2 separate regions of the Homo sapiens genome follow, and region 2 is linked to region 1. Evidence: fine-mapped expression QTL. Tissue or cell type: fibroblasts. Region 1 holds a variant in brackets; the other region holds the start of a gene. All regions are shown on one strand. Distances are from middle to middle.

Region 1 (10,919 bases):
AGCAGCTGCGAAGGTCCCGCCACAGCCGCACGTTCCTGGTGGAGTCAGGCGTAGGAGAGCTGTGGGCAGAGATGCAAGCAGGTAGGGGGAAAGGGGGACGGAGTGTTATCCTTGGCCCCTACCGGGCACCATATACTGATGGGGGGAAGGGCATGTTTGCAAAGCCCGTCTCTTCCTCCTCCATTCGCTGTACCCAACCTGGCCGTCCCCTCACAGTCACCCGCACCCCCACCCCACTCACAGCGGCGCCCCTAACTCCCACTCCTCCAGGGGATTCTCCGCGGACGCTCGGGTGGAGTTGCAGAGCCTCTGGAACCATTTCTGCCCCACACCCTGCGCCCATATGTGGTGGTCTGAGGTTCAAGCACCTGAAGCCCCTCACGTCCCTCCCCCGACCCTGCAGACAGGCCTTGGGACCCGGGGCAGGGCTGGAGGCTGGGCGAGGCTGGAGGGGGCGCAGGGCTGAGGGTGCGAGGCCGCCCACGAGTGTGTGCCCGCGCTCGCCGCCGCAGGAGACCGCTACGTGGTGGCCGACTGCGGCGGAGGCACCGTGGACCTGACGGTGCACCAGCTGGAGCAGCCCCATGGCACCCTCAAGGAGCTCTACAAGGCATCTGGTGAGTAGCCAGGCGGCGCCCCGGTACCCAGCGCGACCCGGGCTCCGGCCCCGCCACTGCCCCCTGGCGGCCCGGCGAGCGCTGACGCCCTCTTCGCCCCCTGCTCCACCCCAGGGGGCCCTTATGGCGCGGTGGGCGTGGACCTGGCCTTCGAGCAGCTGCTGTGCCGCATCTTCGGCGAGGACTTCATCGCCACCTTCAAAAGGCAACGGCCGGCAGCCTGGGTAGATCTGACCATCGCCTTCGAGGCTCGCAAGCGCACTGCTGGCCCACACCGTGCAGGGGCGCTCAACATCTCGCTGCCCTTCTCCTTCATTGACTTCTACCGCAAGCAGCGGGGCCACAACGTGGAGACCGCTCTGCGCAGGAGCAGGTGGGTCCTGAGCCCGCGGGCTCAGGCAGGGTTTGCCGACCCGGGAATGACCGTGCACTGGAGGGTCCCGGGCCCCAAGGAACGGTGGGGGTCTGCCTGATTCATCCCACATATACACTAAGCCAGCAGGGCGTCGGGGTGGGGCGGCGGGGAGCGGCGAGTGAGTGCCCCAGCCCAGCAGGCTCCACCCACGGAATCCGCAGCCCGAACTGGGGCAAGACAGAGAATCATAGCGGGGAGGCGGCAATGCCTATCTCCTCCCAGCCTTCTCTACACCCCCACCCCGGGCCCTGCGGGCCCATGCTCCTCGGTTTCCCTGCACCAAAGCAAGGGGAGGCCCCTCCCAGGACCTCGTACCTGGAACCTGGAGCAGGCTGGCAACTAAATCCTCTGAGTGAGTAGGGTGGAGATAAGGGACTAACATCCCGCAGGTCCAGTCCTCCAGACACCACGTGCAGTCGGTGCCCAGGCACTTCTGCCTGGAGGCAGAGGTAGAGAATAAGGACCACGGACCCCAAACTGGGGCAAGCAGCTGGGCCCTGACCGATGGATATTTGCCCCTTTCACCACCAACAGCGTGAACTTCGTGAAGTGGTCCTCACAGGGGATGCTCCGAATGTCTTGTGAAGCCATGAACGAGCTCTTTCAGCCCACCGTCAGCGGGATCATCCAGCACATAGGTGAGCACCTGAGCTTGGTCCCCCACCCGCCCCTACATGAACAAACAGATGCAGAATAATTCCCCCCCATCAGTGCCTAGATACCTCCACACATCCATACACTGTGATGAGACCTAGAATCATCTAGAACACCTGCGGGATGAAGTGCAGTGGTGATTAAGAGCTAGAGGGTTGATATGTAGTCTTGCCAAGGCAAAAAACTTCTGGTGCCTCAGTTTCCCCATTTATAAAATGGGGTGATAGTATTGGGTTCTCAAAACGTTATCACAGGGATAAAATGAGCTGAAGTACCTAGAGTGAGCACAATGTCTTGCACACAATGTCTAGGTGTTTAATACGTGTAAAATGCATATCCTTATCTCTCGTCCTCCACGTCGTGGTGGGAGAGAAGTGGGGAGCGTGAGTGTTGGGGAGGCGAAGCCCTCGAGGACTCCCGTGAGCTCTCAAAGAAAGTGCTCAAATGGCTACTTTCTAGTCGCCAGGTAGGTACAGGCTAGGGAGGGGAGGCGCCGGTGGCCGCCTAGTGGTGGCCTCAGTGGCTCTCTCTCCCCCGCCCCTTCTCCTCTGCCCCCTTCACCCGCGTCCCCCCGTCCTGTCCCGCAGAGGCCCTGCTGGCACGGCCGGAGGTGCAGGGTGTGAAGCTGCTGTTCCTAGTGGGCGGCTTCGCCGAGTCAGCGGTGCTGCAGCACGCGGTGCAGGCGGCGCTGGGCGCCCGCGGTCTGCGTGTCGTGGTCCCGCACGACGTGGGCCTCACCATCCTCAAAGGCGCGGTGCTGTTCGGCCAGGCGCCGGGCGTGGTGCGGGTCCGCCGCTCGCCGCTCACCTATGGCGTGGGCGTGCTCAACCGCTTTGTGCCTGGGCGCCACCCGCCCGAAAAGCTGCTGGTTCGCGACGGCCGCCGCTGGTGCACCGACGTCTTCGAGCGCTTCGTGGCCGCCGAGCAGTCGGTGGCCCTGGGCGAGGAGGTGCGGCGCAGCTACTGCCCGGCGCGTCCCGGCCAGCGGCGCGTACTCATCAACCTGTACTGCTGCGCGGCAGAGGATGCGCGCTTCATCACCGACCCCGGCGTGCGCAAATGCGGCGCGCTCAGCCTCGAGCTTGAGCCCGCCGACTGCGGCCAGGACACCGCCGGCGCGCCTCCCGGCCGCCGCGAGATCCGCGCCGCCATGCAGTTTGGCGACACCGAAATTAAGGTCACCGCCGTCGACGTCAGCACCAATCGCTCCGTGCGCGCGTCCATCGACTTTCTTTCCAACTGAGGGCGCGCCGGCGCGGTGCCAGCGCCGTCTGCCCGGCCCCGCCCTCTTTCGGTTCAGGGGCCTGCGGAGCGGGTTGGGGCGGGGGAAACGATAGTTCTGCAGTCTGCGCCTTTCCACGCCCTCCAGCCCCGGGGGAGATAAGGTCATGGGAGAGTGGGTGGGGACACACCCAGAGACTGGCTTTGGGATTGGGCACTGGTCCGCTGACTGCCAGGCTGAAGGGACCCGCCAAGGACTGAACGGGTAAGAGAAGAGGTTTGCAAGACAGAGCGCGCAGCCCGGCAAGGGGCATGTGACCCCGAAGGAAGAACGCAACAGAAGAGTCCTGGTCTGAACTTGGCCGAGTAGGGGTGGGGGTGGGATGGCAGGAGGAGCCGCAGGAGGAAGGAGGTTGTGCAGGGTCTGGACCTGCAGGGCTGAAGTTCACTCATCGACCGACTCAGCCCCAACCGGGAGCCAGGCAGAAAAACCCTGTGCCGTAGGAAAGTGACTGGAAGTGGACTCCAGAGGGACAGGTGTGGTGGCACAGTCCTGGTGTGGTGCTGACCACCCAAATATGACTGTGAATTGTGGAAAGGGCAGTAGATCTCTAATGTGGAGGTGGGAACATTATTGTGGTGGAGGCAATTATGAGGGTAGCATTTCTTTCGAGACAAAACACCCGTCTGGGAAGGCCCCAAGGTCAGCTTATGAAGGACCCCACTTGCACCCCACCCCAGCCATGGAAGAGCAGCTGGAGGGTGGATGGGGAGGCCAGAGGGAGCAATGAGGGGTGGTCCCAGCTCTGCTATTGACTCGGTATGCCTTTAGGACATTCTCTTACCGCTCATGGGCCTCAGTTTCCTAAAGTGTGAAATGTCAGGCACTTCCCTCTAACTGGCATGCAACAGCCCCACCTGCCTGAGAGCCCTGAGGTGACAATAAAACATTTATGCTCAAGGGGAAGCCACAGCCTGCTGATATGGCGTGGAGACCCTAATAGTGGGAGGAATGCAAGGGTTCCCGGTGCTAGAGAGAGAAGGGAGAAAGCTTTCAGCTGTGCATAGGGAACTGACCAGAAGGGGGTGCTGCTGTCTCCCATCAAGCATCCCAAACAACTCCACTGCTTAAGACCTCTCTGGCCTACACATGAGGTCCCTCTCTCCTCATTCAAATTAATTGTCTTGGCAGCCAGCTTCTGGCCTAAAATGCCACCACCTGTGCATACCTCTTGTGGGGCTAGGTGCTATAATACCACGCGGTGCCCCTGCCTCCTGAGTGAGTCTACCCAAGTCTTTCCCTGGCCCATCTGCAAAGGAGTAGGCATTACCCCAACCCCAGAGAACAAAAATCCACCTGGCCTCCGGTATCCACTGGAAGTTTATTTCTTTAGGGTTCTATCCCAACCAGTCGCTTAAAAACCAAGTAACACAGACCTGAGGGGTGGGGGCTGGGGACTGCACCTCCCTCCTACTCATGGTGGACAGCAGTGGGGACTAGGGAGGGGCAGGAGAGGTGGCTGAAGCAAGGCAGCAGTAATGGGGCCACGACGCCACAGAGCCAGCTCCGTCCTCTCCCAGACCCTGGTGGGAGTCCCTGTGGCTTGGGGTGGGGAGTGGGGGACCCACCCCAGGCCCTCCCTCTCCCTTCCTCAGACAGCCTCCTTTCGGGCTCAACCCATTTCTTCCGGCAGGAGACTGAGGCACACAGAGAGGAGGAAGTGGGAGAGGAGGACGAGGGAGGGGCAGGGTGGCAGCACAAATGAAGGCAGAGGTGAGAGGCGTGGGCAAGGCCACTCCACCCCCACACCCACCCCAGAGAGGGGCGAGGAAGCCACACCATCACGCAGCATGTCGGGGGGACAAGGCGGGGTTTAAGGCTGAGGGGCCCGGGGCAGGCGGGGCCTCGGGCCTCAGTCAAAGCCGTGCCAGTCGCTGTGCTCTGAGTCGTATTCCAGCTCGGCGCCCACACACTTGACACCATCCAGCAGCATGGGCGTGCCGTGGTGCCGGTCTGCAAGGCAGGGTGCAAGTCAGTGCCATGCTGGCCCCCGGCCCCACCCATGCGGCCCACTAAGGGGACCCCTCCCCTTCCCTCAGGGATCAGCTGGAGGTAGGGACCTGCCAAGGAGGTTGAGAACCCCTGAGCCGGGCAAGGATCCCTTGTTCAGCCTTGGTTCCCTGAGGAGGACAGAAACCCTCGCAGTCGAGCTTGTGCATCCCTCCTCCAACCAGGAGCCTCACGCTCTCACCCATGACGCGGGCCTGCACCGTCACGCGCACACAGGTGCCAGTGCCACCTTCGCAGGCTAGCAGTATCTCCTCTTTGAGGACGCCCTCTTTGTGCGCCGAGTACTCACACTTGACACTATAACCTGCCCGGGGACAGGGGCAATTGGTCAGCACCTCCCCCAGCCTCCCCGATCCTGCCCCTGGCACTCACGGGCCCCTACCCACCACCATGGGGGGACTGCATGCTAAGCCCCCCCAAGAAAGGGGCAGGGATGGCCCTTCTGGAGCCCAGAGACCCATTCCCCCTAGCAGGGGTGCACAGGTCTCAAAAACCCATTCTTCAGTGAGCTGGACATGCCTCCAGCCTGTGGGCCACCCCAATGTGGCTCCAAGAGTGAATGAAGTAGGGTCCAATTCAGGCTTCCAAAAGAAGGTCTGGCTGTTTTCTCCCAAAAGGAAGGCAGGGAGAGGCGGTGATGAGGAGTGAGGGGGGCAGGGCAGGGTAGGCTTTGAGCAGATCCGATGGCAAGAGGTAAAGGCCTGAGGGGTGTCAATCCATTGAAGGGCAAGGTCATGAAGAGGCTGGTGACGGGGACATGAAACTGAAGCTGGAGCTCCACGAAACTGACACCCTAGCCTCTGCCAGGCTGGGAGTGGGGCATGGGGCAGGGCCTGAAGTGAGCCTGATAGGAACAGCAGCCTGAAACCCAAGGTCTGGGACTGGTGGGTGCTAGGAGTTATCCACACGGTGTGTGTAGCTCCAGCAGGTTTTTCTAGAGGGTTAGGGAGGCAGGAGGGAAGGCTGGAGGCTTCAAACCAGTTCCTCAGCAGCTCCCATCTTGGTTACTGCCCCACGGAGGTAACCATCACACCATGGGCAGGTACAGGGAAGTATGAGCTCATGGACTTCTGTTCAGGACAGGGAGCAAGGCCTGGAGTGTGGGACCTGCCATGCTGCCACAGTGCAAGCTCACAAAGAGGTGCCACATCCCCGACTTGCTGAGCTGCCCATCCACCCTAGTTGGAAGTAAGGGAGCACCCCATGTTCTCACTCCCACACCCATCCAGGCCCTGCTGGAGGAGGGGACGCACCTTCAGGGACGGGCACCACGCTGAGGAGCTTGAGGTGCAGGCTGGGGACAGGTGCCTCGCGGACATCCTTGCTCAGCCTGTGCACTGGGGGCAGAGTGAAGGTAATCTCATACCTGTGCAGGATCTTCAGGAAGCCAACCTACAGCAGGAGAGGTGAGGGAGGGAGGCACCTTCACTTCCTGCTTCCCGCAGGCCCACCCAGTTGTGCCACCTATGATCCCATGCGCCCCAGCACCTGCTTCCCCAGAGAGCCCAGAAAGCCCAACTCCCTCCATCACTCCAGCTGATCGA[CCCCCAGCCCAGTGG/C]CCCCAGCCCTTTCACAGACCCCTTGAGGGTCCCAGCCCTACAGCTTGGCCAGCAAGATCCTCAGCATCTGTCTCACGGGCCCCAAAGTCCTCAGTGGCTCATTTCATAGACAGGAAAATGGAAACCACAAAATGACTGGCCAAAGGCTATGTAGTGTGGCCAGGGTCAAGTCCTCCCTAGACTTCTTGGCCATTCCTGCTATGCATGGCACCCAGCAAGGCACCACCCACTGCCTACAAGGGAAAGTTCAAAGTCCCATGGGTCATTCACCTGTCCCCATCACTGCCAGTATCCCAGGGTCAGGGATGCTGGTCCTCCATTCGCTCATAGGATGACACCAGGCCACAGATAGCGTGGGATGAGGGATGGGATCAAATTAGAGATATGACAGTAGACCAGCTGTGTCAGCCCAGAGCTGGCCCACAGGCCTGGCACCAGCCACTGAACTGGGGCTCCTGGCTGCCCTGCTGGCACTGGACTGGGGATGCCTGCCTGCCCACTCAAAGGCTGTGTCCAATGGCCCATACTCACGACCCAAGCAATTTCTGTTGTTCATTCACAGTGCTTGGTGACAACCACCCTCTGGGACAAATGCCATTCTTGGAAACTCCAGTAGTATGAAGGGTCACAAGCCAGGGTGGTTGCTGAGCAGGGGGGCTGGTGGGGGTGCCACGCCAGCAGGCAAAGGGTGCCTGCTGTACTCCCAGCTTGCATGGGCACACAGAGTCCTGCTCACAGTTACTGGGGCTGGGCAGCCCCATCCCTGGGGGCCAACTGGGACTGGCTGCAGAGAGTTTTAGCCATTCAATGGGACCAGGTTGATATTGCTACATGACAAACTTCAATCCATGTGCCCCCCTCATGCTCTGCTGGTAGGGGGCACATCCCTCAAGAAGGCTTTCTGGCTGTACCTGCTAACTGTGACCCTGTGACCCAGGGGTACTACTTATAGAATTTTCCAGGGGAAATAGAGATGTGCAGAAAAATACTCTTCGCTGCCCTATTTATAACAATGAAAACAAAAACAGCCGTAACACCCAGGAACAGGGAGCCAGCTAAGTCAATGATGACACGTATCATGGACCAGTAGGCAGTTGTAAAATCTCGTGGAAAATTATTTACTGACACAGGTAGGAGACAGTTCACAACAGAAGCAAGCAAAAACCAGTGTGGACACGGTGAGGCCAGCTTTTGTTTTTGGAAACAAAGCTTTTTAAAATAAGCTGGATCCATCACCATAGTGTTTTCAGAAAAATAAATAAATAAATAAATAACATTTTAAAAAGCTGGAATAAGCCAGGTGTGGTGGCTCACGCCTGTAATCCCAGCACTTTGGGAGGCCGACACGGACGGATCACGAGGTCAGGAGATCGAGACCATCCTGGCCAACAGAGTGAAACCCCGTCTCTACTAAAAATATAAAAAATTAGCTGAGAGTGGTGGCACGCGCCTGTAATCCCAGCTACTCTGGAGGCTGAGGCAGGAGAATTGCTTGAACCTGGGAGCTGGAGGTTGCAGTGAGCTGAGATGGCGCCACTGTACTCCAGCCTGGAGACAGCAAGACTCCGTCTCAAAAAGAAAAAAAAAAGCTGAAATAACACACATCAGAATATTAACCATGGTTATTTTGGGATAGTATGACTGTGGGTACTTTTAAATTTCTTCATATTTTCTCTGTCTTCCAAATTTTCTCATGTCTATTAAGACATGAGTGGATTTTGCAATGAGGGGAGAGAGCTATTTTTAAGTGTTGGTTTGTTCCATTTACTCTCTTGGGGAAGCTGTCAGCTGTAGGACAAAGAGTGGGAACTTCAGAGTTGGACAGAAATGGATACAAACCTGGGCCCCCCAGGTTCTTTTTTGTTTGTTTGTTTGAGACAGAGTCTTTCTGTTGCCCAGGCTGGAGTGCAGTGGCACAATCTCAGCTCACTGCAACCTCAGCCTCCTGGGTTCAAGCAATTCTTCTGCCTCAGCCTCCCAAGTAGCTGGGACTACAGGCGTGCGCCACCACGCTCAGCTAACTTTTGTATTTTTAGTAGAGACGGGTTTCGACCCATTGGCCAGGCTAAACCTGGGCCCCTTTTGAGCAGCGCAGCAGACCCCCCACTCAGGGCCATCTCAATGGGCCAGACCTCCCCCGACCCAAGGGCACTCCTGTTCAACTCTGGACCCCTGATTTATTGACCAACCTGAAGGCCTCAGTCTCCATTTTCCCCAATCCAGCTCCACCAAGCAGAAAACAGGGGGTGATAATACTACTTCAAAGAGCCTAACTGAGCCAGAGATTTGGCAAAGAAGGGTTAAAAAAAAAGTTGCACCTTGTTATTGCCATAGTTAGCTTCACACCTGTATCACATACATACATTCTTCCATTCTCACACCAACTCTAGGGGATGTGATTGTCTCCACTTGAGAGAAAAGAAACTCAGGTGACCTTCCCAAGGTCACAGAGCCAGAATGGCTGGCCTAGACCTGAACTCAGGCCACTGGCACCACAGCCACGACACTGCCTTCCATTGCTATTGTCTGGGTGAAGCAGATGACAGCAGTGGCTCTGCTCATCTTGATCTGGATGACATTCTAAATGCTCTCATCTCATTGAAATCTCACTGCCTCCCATCTGACAGATGGGGCAACCAAGGCACAGGGAAAGGCACAGACATGCCTATAAGCCCGGCTGAGAGGAACGGGGATAGGCACCCAGAAGCCAGGCAGAGCCGGGGAGGGGAAGAAGCTGCTGATGGGGTAGGTGTGCATGTACCTTGACCAGAAAGCTGCTGTCACTCTCCTGGGTGACCATGACCACCGAGTCATGCAGCTTCTCATCAAAGTGGACGTGGCTGTGGGATCCTTCTGCATCGTGGCCTGCCGCAAAGCGGATACTCCGGACTCTGGGCTTGTTGCCTAGGAAGAGTGGGAGAGGGCTCTGAGGGCTTTCCCTGTCCCCAGGAAACTCCTCCCCCTTGTCCCCTCGTCACCCCCAAGACTGCCCTTGACATCATCCAGCTCCCACTGGCTGGGCTCTTTTCAGGGCTAGATGGACACTAGGATCATGAGGCTTGAGGCCTCCCCGCCGGCCCCGACCTGCCCCTCCCACAAAAATCCATCCCCTGAGAGTGAGCGTGGGGGGACTCAGGGACTGGCTAATATGACCCTTGCTTGGAGGGGGTGGGGCTGGTGCCAGAGCCAGGAAGGGACAGTCTTCCAGACTCCCACCAAGCCAGGGCAGCGTGGGACTCAGCCCAGTCCTCTGGATACCCTGCCCAGTGCTCTCCTTCACAGTGCAAAGCTCCCCATCCCTGGGGCCTACCCCTAAGCTGTGTCAGTGCATGAGGCCCCTGCCTGCCCATCCTCATGACCCAAACCTGAAAGGGCAGGGACAGGAACAGGCTCTGGGGGATCTGCCTGGGGTGGCAGAAACAGGGGGGATCAAAAAACACACTCAGGCCACCTGGGCGAGGCTGCAGCTGCCAGTAAACCTCACTGGCCCCTGGCAGCAAGAAGAGAGAATCCAAGGAAGCTTCCAGACCCACCTCAAGACCCCCTTCCTTCCTCTGTCTAGCCCACCATCAAGGCCCTCAGCTGTCTCTGAGCTGGGTCGGGTTCTCCAAGGCCAGAAAGGGCAGACGGATGAGACAGGCAGGGTAGGCGGGAGCCGAGCTGAAGGCCTGGACTGGATGAATGCTCAGGCTGTAGAGGCCGAGAGCACGGCCCTAGTCCTCTCTGACCCCTGGCCCCTAGGCCCTCCCACCAAGAGCCCTGCCCAGGGTCCTCTTGGCGGGAGGACCTGATCCAGCTTTGAGCCGGCCTCTTGGATACTCGGAGGCCCAGGGGACCAGCCTGGCACATCCACAATCCCTGGTGAGCCCCACAGAACCCTCAAATCTCACCAGATCACCCTGGCCTAAAACCCTCCCTTATCCCTTCTGGACTCTGAAAGAAACCCAAACTCCCTTCCACAGCCTGCTGTGGCCCTCCCACATCACCAGTCTCAGTGCTCACCATAAGCCCCTCGGCTCCCCCAACCCCCACAGTGGAACGGCAGGGACACAAGAGCACACACCTCCACAGACCAGCCTAAGGAGTCAGCAGGGCTCTGCAGGGGTCCTGCTAGGGCTTGCGTGAGCCCCAGAACCTGGCACAAACACTGACATAGTCCCAATCACATTCGCACACCAGCACACACGCACTCACACATGCACACACACACACACAGGTGGTGCGGGCCCTACCTGCAGCAATGGCCCTCCTACCAGGGCCCACCGGAAGAGCTTGTGCAAGTCCTACCACGCCAGGAAGGCACTTACCCTTGTTGGCTGCAGCCATGGACGCCCTCCCTGCCACGCAGCTCCTGCCAGACACCGCCACTCACGCTCAGCAGC
Region 2 (7,960 bases), 20 kb before region 1:
ATGAGTCTTCACCCCTGCTCAGAGCCTGCTGCCGTGGCCCTCAGAGACGAGCCCATCTTTGGAGCTGGAGTTGGGGACAGGGAAACCAGGTGGAAGGGAAAAAGAAAAAAGGGGCAGGCATGAGTGTGAGGGGCCAGACCCTGCAGACCCCAGGACATGCACAGCAGACACACACTCCAATCCCTCCTGGCTCTGCTCAGCCTCAAACGAGGTGCAGGCCTGCAGGCCCCAACCAAGGACCCCTGTTACACACAGACACAAAGACACAAGATGCAGCAACACACACACGTAATACAGAAACACAGTCACACACTAGCGCACACACAGACACAGTCAGACAATCCAAGAAACACACTCACACATGAACAGACATATAAGCAAAGTCTTACACATACAAAGACACACTTAAGCACAGACACAAACACACCAACAGATGCACAGACGGACACACATAGACGCACACTGGGAGGCGGCCTGTGGAGACTGCTGATTGGATACCATGTTGGCTTGGTATCCAGAATTGTTGGTGCAGCGCACTCACCATGCCTGACCTCATTAAGGAGGCCCTCTGGGGCAGTGGCTCTGAGAAGAAAGGCAGCAAGCCTAGGGAGGTGACACTGTAGCTGGGGAGCATTTTGGCTGGGCAGAGAGGAGGAAGGAGAGCATTTCAGGGAGGGAAAATAGCCCTTGCAAAGGTTTGGAGTGGAAGAGCAAAAGGGATGTCCCAAGAACTGTGCCTCATTTGATGGGGCTGTGGGGCCCTTCTCTGACGGGCAGCCTTCCCAGGCACAAAGGGAGGTGGACTGAGAAGCATCTGGAACTTCTGTGGGGGCACATGGGGCAGAGGGGAAGGGGAACAGGCAGAACGAGTCAGCTGCCTTTGAAAGCTCCACGAGGGACCTAGCAGAAATTCATTCATTCATCCGTTCATTCATTTATTTATGACAGGTTCTCTCTCTGTCACCCAAGCTGGAGTGCGGTGGTGTGATCACACTTACTGCAGCCTCAAACTCTTGGGCTCAAGCAATCCTCCACCCCAGCCTCCTGAGTACCTAGGACTACAGACGTGAGCTACTACACCTGGCTAATTTTTAAAACTTTTTAGAGACAGGGTCTCCCTTTGTTGCCCAGGCTGGTCTTTGTTGCCCAGCCAGCTTCAAGCCATCCTCCCACCTCAGACTCCCAAAGCGCTGGATTACAGGCATGAGCCACGGGTTCCCAGCCCAGAAAGAGACCTTCACCCCACAAACCCCCTGTCTGGAGGCCAAGTCCCAGCATCCCCAGAAGGGCCCCGGTTAGGACAAGAAAAAGGCTGTGTGCCTCGGAGGAGAGGCTGGGTGCCCCCTGGTGCGGAGTGGTCCCCTTGCCGGGCATGGGGCCTCAGTCTGTGAGACTCCGCGCCTCCGTCGTCTGAACTTGAGCAAAGACAGAGCTAGGCCTAGCCTGGGGACCCGAGGGCCTGCCCTCATCCGCAATTCTGCCTCTTTTCTGGCCACTGAGGACCGGGCTAGGGAAGCTGTAGGGGCAGTAGGGGTGGGAGGAGAGAGGGTTCCGGGTCAAGGGACTGGAGGGGTCTGGGGCAGGGAAGTGGAGGGGTCTAGGGCGGGCCCTTCCCCCTCCGCTGTTGGGCCCTCGCTGAAGGGGCCGAGGCTGAGCCCCAAGGTGGGCCTGTGGGGGCGGGGCGGGGGAGCCCCTCAGCAGCTGGACCGCAGGAGGCCGACCAGGGTCTGGAACTCCTCTTCCCCTCCCTCCGCCGCCCCCTCTCCCTTCTCCCACCCCCTGGGCTGCTAGGGGAGCGGGGGAGGCGCAGGAGGGGCTCAGGGAGGGGCCCTGGACGCGGGACCAGGCTGGGCCCCTCGGCGGAGGCCCGCGCAGGCAGGCCCCGCCCCGGCCTCGCACATCTGGGCCGGGAGCGCGGGCCGACCCGGCGGCGCAGGCGGCGCGGCCATCCGGCCTGGGGGAGGGGGCGGCGGGCGGGGTGGGCGGCGCGAGGAGGCGGGAGGCCTCAGGGCCGGGCGCACGTCGAGGGCTGCGGCCGCCGCAGCGGGCACGGCCAACGAGCTGCGGGCCCGGGATCGCGGCGGCTGGACGGGGCTGGAGCTGTCGGGAGGGCGGAGGTGAGTTCTGGGGCGGGGGCTGCCGGGCGCCCCGAGTGGAGAAAGGCGAGGAGGTTTGCCGTCCCGGGCTGTCGGCTGAGACCCCACCAAAAACCTCCAGACTTTGTCTGGTGGGGACAGATCTGCAAGCCCCTCTCTGCAGCGTGGCTGCGGGCTCGGGAAGGCACTTGGGGCAGCGACCTTGGTCTCCCACCTGGGCTTCGGGGGACCACCTCCCCTGTCCCTCGCACAGCTGCTCAGAGGCTTAGGCTGGAGAAACTCCTGTGTCTTAGGGGCTGGCAGGACTGGTGTGGGCTGGGGCCTGCTCCAGGGAGCCAAACTGAGGGACCCGGTGCCTAGGTCTGAGGTGGAAACCTGGGAGTTGAGTGTATGTGTGTGTGTTGGGGGGTGCCTCAGGGGTCCCAGGCCCTGTGGTCCCGAAGCGCAACAGAGTACTGAGTGGCCCAGGTGCCAGGGTCTGAGGCTGGGACCTGGTCTTCCGGGCCAGCTTGAGGTCCAGGTGGGGTGGGGTCCAGGTTCCCGCTAGGGCAGTGGAGCCTATCTGTGAGGTTAGCGTGTGTTGATGAGAGAGACTGGAAGGGAGTGATCACGAAACTAGGGACCCTCCGGAGAGCAGACGCAGCGCAGGAATCCCAGGCCAGAGGGGTAATGGGGGGCTGTGGGCAGAGCATGGGAGGGGCTCTGTTGTTTGTGAACTGGCTGCTCCCATGATGAGGACCCAAGGGGGTGCGGCAGGATGTATGGAAAGCAAAGATGAGGACAGGGAGGGGCCATGGGAGGCCATTTCTGTCACTCCCTGCCCCAGCGCAGGATGGGGCAGCCACCTCACTCAGCCACACATGGTCCCATCTTCTTAAGGGCTCCTCTCCAGAACAGAGTGGGGCAGCCCTTTGGGTGCCGTTTCTGATCTGTGCTTTGGGCCCTGGTTGGCCCAGTCTGTGGCTTGGAAGAAACGCCTGTGGCCTCACTTAGCCCGCTGACGGAGTCCTGTTCCATTACAGGGCTGGCTGGGTGCTGAGCAGAGAGCAGCAGGCGGAAGAGGCAGGGTCCTAGTGAGGAGGGGAGCTGGAATGACCTGGGTGGGCTCTTTGTCTACACAGGCATCGTGTGGAGCCCTGAAACCCAGAACACTGCATTCCCATAGTGCTCCTGGGGACATGAGCGCCCAGCTGAAACACCCCACACAGGAAGAGATCCTCCGAGGATTCTGTCAGGCAAAGGGTTGGGCCCCTGCAAGGTGGCTCACGCCTGTAATCCCAGCACTTTGGGAGGATGAAGTGGGAGGATCGCTTGAGGCCAGGTGGTCGAGGCTGCAGTGAGCCGTGATCGTGCCACTGCACTCCAGCCTAGGCAACAGAGCAAGACCCTGTCTCAAAAAAAGGAGCGGGAGTGGGGGCAGGGTTCGTCCTAGGCTATTGTAAGACCAGGGGATACTCTGGGATGGGAGTCTCTGGTTGTGAGTTCCTGCTGGGCCACACCCTATCCTGGTCCCCAGTGACTAATCGGCCCTGCCTATTGGGTAGAAGTCAGGGCCAGGGGTCAGGGTGAAGCTGATGACTAGAGGTCAATATGAAGCCAAGAGTTAGGGGTCAGTCCATGGGCAGGGTTAGGGATCAGGCTGGGGCCAGAGTTTGGCATGTGCTTGTAGCCAGGAAATGGAGTTCCTTTCTGTGTAAATCAAACTGTCCCACTCAATTACTCTCAAACCCATAGGCACCACCAGTCTGAAATTAGTAGGCCCCTGAAGCGGGGCTCAGCCTCCCCTCATTTTCAGCTGTGGACTCTGCCCAGACCTAGCTTTCGGGAGCTGGGCTTGTCCCGTGTTCTGTGGTCAGCACTCTCCTTAAGTGTCCCTGGGTGTGTGTGCTCGCTTGGCAGTCAGCCACCTCTTGGCTTACCTCCACCTCTCGGGGAATCCGTGGGATCCTCCTTCTTTAACACAATTTTTTTTTTTTTTTTTTTGGAGACAGGGTCTCACTCTGTCACCCAGGCTGGAGTGCAGTGGTGTGATCATGACTTACTGCAGCCTCAACCTTCCGGGCTCAAGCAATTCTCCCACCTCAGCGTCCAAAGTGGCTGGGACTCTAGGCATGCACTACCACGCTGGGCTAATATTTGTATTTTTCGTAGAGATGGGGTTTTGCTGTTGCCCAGGCTGGTCTCGAACTCCTGAGCTCAAGCAATCCACCCACTTTGACCTCCCAAAGTGCTAGAATTACAGGCATGAGCCACCACACCCAGCCCTTAACACAGATTGATTTAGTTCCTACCTCCTTCCTTAAAGAACTCATGATGACTAGAATGCGATTCTCAGTAAGACCAAAATATCTAACAAGAAAATTCAGAATCTGCATCATGAAGGGAAAGAACACTGCTCAAACCTGCCCAACTCCCTGCTTTTATCAATACCTTGCATATCTGGACTTGTTAACATAAGCCCTCTGTGTCACCCATTCTACAGGAAAGGGCACTGAGGCACAGAGATGTGGCATGATGCACTCACGCTAGGTGCCATAATAGGCTCTTGCCATCCCTGAAACCCCAGCATAGGGGCACTCAGCATATCGCACAATGAGAGACGGTAGATAACTGGACAAGCTTCCGATAGCTGGGAAGAGTATAGGCCCATGGTTTGGATGTGGAATCCAGTGTAGAGCGAGGACTCAGTCTTTTTTTTTTTTTTTTCTTGAGATGGGGTCTCACTCTTCTCGCCCAGGCTGGAGTGCAATGGCGCGATCTTGGCTCACTGCAACCTCTGCTTCCCAGGTTCAAACGATTCTCCTGCCTCAGCCTCCTGAGTAGCTGGAATTACAGGCGTCTGCCACTACGCTTGGCTAATTTTTGTATTTTTAGTAGAGACAAGGTTTCACCATGTTGGCCAGGCTGGTCTCGAATTCCTGACCTCAGGTGATCCACCTGCCTCAGCCTCTGAAAGTGCTGGGATTACAGGAGTGAGCCACGGCGCCCGGCCCAGAGTCTTTTTTTTCTGGTGGTTCTAGGTTGTTTCTCCTCCAGATACAATAGCCTCGGTCCAGAAAATCCATTCATTCATTCAACAAAGTGGTTCCCCAGTGCTTAGCACAGAGCCTGGCATGAAGAATCTCGATAAGTGTTTGCTGAAGAATCAGAACAACATACAAATAAGGCTGCCAGCTCCTCCCTCGAGACCTTGATCCAGTAGTATGCTGGTTAATGGTTTCCAATCAGCTCTGGAAGAAGGATAAAATCCTGATTTATGGTGTTTGCCAATTTCTGTCTTGTAAATACTCCCAGCCATGACTGATTTGAAGCTACCAATGTGATGTCATTGAATGCAGAATTGGGAAGAGATAGAAAGAATCAGCTCGCATGAGCTGGTGGGACCCAGCTCAGCATCCCACTCCATCATCCTGAGCTGGGCTCTGGGCTCCTGCCCCTGGCTCCTAAGAACCCTCCCCTCCCCCTCTCTGTGCTTTCCCTTTTCTCCTCAACAGCCAGCTGCTATATGCATGCCCACAACCAGCACCCATCCTTCTTCTGATTCTGATTCCTGAGCATCCAACTCCAATGGTACAGAGGACAGCAAGAGTGTCTGGAAATCTCCATGGTGCTGGCCATGCAGGAGAATCCTGGACATACAAGAGTGTGTGGGAGTCCAGGTGTCTGTCCACAATGGGGCTGGTTTGTGTGAACTGTGTGAGCAAGGGTGTGTGCATGTGTCTATGGGCATGCCAGAGCCAGCTCTGTGTCTGCCTGTGTTCTATAGCAAAACTTTCAGATTGGGCCGCTGGTGACAGAGAAGGAATGCATTGGCCCTGCGTAGCCTCCTCCTTTGTTTAGAGGAGCAGCCAGGCCCACCAATGAGAACATAGTGTCAGTGGTCTGCAGACTGGCTGAGAGACACTGTTGAGCAACACTTCTCAAACTTCAATGTGCACCTGAATCACCTGGGAATCTTGTTAAAATAGGCCAGACGCGGTGGCTTACGCCTGTAATCCCAGCACTTTGGGAGGCTGAGACGGGCGGATCACCTGAGGCCAGGAGTTCGAGACCAGCCTGGCCAATATGGTGAAACCCCGACTCTACTAAAAATACAAAAATTAGCCAGGCATTTTTAGGTGGCATTTTAGGCAAATTAGGTGGCGCATGCCTGTGGCCCCAGCTACTTGGGAGGCTGAGGCAGGATAATCACTTGAACCCAGGAGATGGAGATTGCAGTGAGCTGAGAACTGAGATCACGCCACTGCACTCCAGCCTGGGGGACAGAGTGAGACTCTGCCTCAAAAATAAATAAATAAATAAATAAATAAATAAATAAATAAATAAATAAATATGAAATACATGTTCTGATTCAGCAGGTCTGGGCTGGGGCCTGAGGTTCTGCATTTCTAACAAGCTTCCAGGTGATACCAATGCTGCTGATCCTCAGCCCACACTTTGAGTAACAAAGCTGTTGATGGTTTGAAATATCCTGCCTATAGCCTGGCCCCAGAACTTCATAGACAGGATCGAGCCCCTCCCATCTTAGAAAATAAATATTCTTCCTCACCTCCCTTCAGCTTTAGCGCCCTCCAACTACTGCCCTCACATGTATTCCTGATTTCAGCCAAGCTTTTCAGAAATTCTAGCTCAATATGATTGCGTCACTACACTCCAGCCTGGGCAACAGAGTGAAACTCCATCTTAAGAAAAGAAGTTCTAGCTCATGTCACCTCTTGCTCACTCCTCACCTAAGCTTACCTCCCTTGGGCCACTAAAACAGTGTTTCCAGTCTCATCTGGGGACCTTTTACAGGGATCTAGCTTTACCCATCTCTTGGTACAATCTTCATGAGACCATGAGGCATCTCAGTCTCCTGGGCCGGTATATATTCCTCTGTTCAGCCTTTAAATGTAGGTTCTCCTCGTGACAGAGTGACACCCTATCTCAAAACAAACAAACAACGAAGGCCAGGCACGGTGGCTCATGCCTGTAATCCCAGCACTTTGAGAGGCCGAGGTGGGCGGATCACCTGAGGTCAGGAGTTCGAGAACAGCCTGGCCAACACGGCGAAACCCCGTCTCTACTAAAAATACAAAAATTAGCTGGGCATGGAGGCACTCACCTGTAATCCCAGCTACTGAGGAGGCTGAGGTAGGAGAATGGCTTGAACCTGGGAGGCAGAGGTTGCAGTGAGCCAAGATCGTGCCACTGCATTCCAGCCTGGGCAACAGAGTGAGACCCTGTCTCAGAAAAAAGAAAAGACAAATTGAGTCATGCCCCCACCCCACCCTGCCACCTCAAACCTTTCAAGATTTGCTGTTGCCCTTCATATAAAATCAAATCTGAAATAGGGTGCACAGGCCCTGCCTGCAGGGTAAGCCCAGCCCAGCCCTCTGTCCAGACTTACCATGTCCTCTTCCCACCCCGCATTATCCAACTTTGACCTTCCTAGCACTCAGCAACGCTTGTCATTTCAAAATCACTTGCCTGATTATCTCCTCCATCAGACCGTTGGTTTCTAGGGCAGGGACAGTGTCTCTCTGGGTCACTATCTCCCAGCACCTGGCACAGAGCAGGCACCAGAAAACATTTAGGAGGATCCTGATTCCAAGAAAGTAAAGCCATTTTTTGACACAAGCTGGGAACTGTGGGACTTTAGATGAGATTTAAGGAATTACTGTTAATTTCATTAGACATGAGAATGGTGTTGCGATGACATTGTTTAAAACGTCTTTATCTGTTGGAGAGATGTATTAAAGAGTTCACGGGTGAAACAACATGATGGCTGGGATTTGCTTCAAAGGACTCCAGCCAAAAGTAAACAAATAAAATAAATAAGCATTCAGATGAGGGAACAAAGGGACAAATAAATCCCACTCTGC

What was found. PIP is the estimated chance that this variant, and not a neighbour inherited with it, causes the effect. A credible set is the group of variants that fine-mapping cannot tell apart.
Region 2: HSPA12B starts here. The variant in region 1 is the best candidate, but not a certain one, in a credible set for the expression of HSPA12B in fibroblasts (GTEx, PIP 0.84).

The regions. Positions count from the first base shown.
Region 1 is chr20:3,749,238-3,760,156 of GRCh38, forward strand. HSPA12B (heat shock protein family A (Hsp70) member 12B) reads left to right here. Exons shown (of 13, transcript NM_052970.5): 9 at 1-81; 10 at 513-617; 11 at 732-990; 12 at 1,567-1,670; 13 at 2,274-3,874. The coding sequence ends at 2,929. ADISSP (adipose secreted signaling protein) reads right to left here. Exons shown (of 6, transcript NM_001258429.2): 2 at 10,845-10,919; 3 at 9,299-9,441; 4 at 6,232-6,370; 5 at 5,160-5,282; 6 at 4,271-4,921. The coding sequence starts at 10,863. The coding sequence ends at 4,821. Among named protein-coding and RNA genes, the nearest start is that of ADISSP, 13 kb to the right of the region's middle. RefSeq lists enhancers at 1-108, 109-659 and a silencer at 533-762. The variant CCCCCAGCCCAGTGG/C (reference allele first, on the strand shown) is at 6,523.
Region 2 is chr20:3,730,678-3,738,637 of GRCh38, forward strand. HSPA12B (heat shock protein family A (Hsp70) member 12B) reads left to right here and starts at 2,008. Exons shown (of 13, transcript NM_052970.5): 1 at 2,008-2,117. RefSeq lists an enhancer at 2,070-2,649.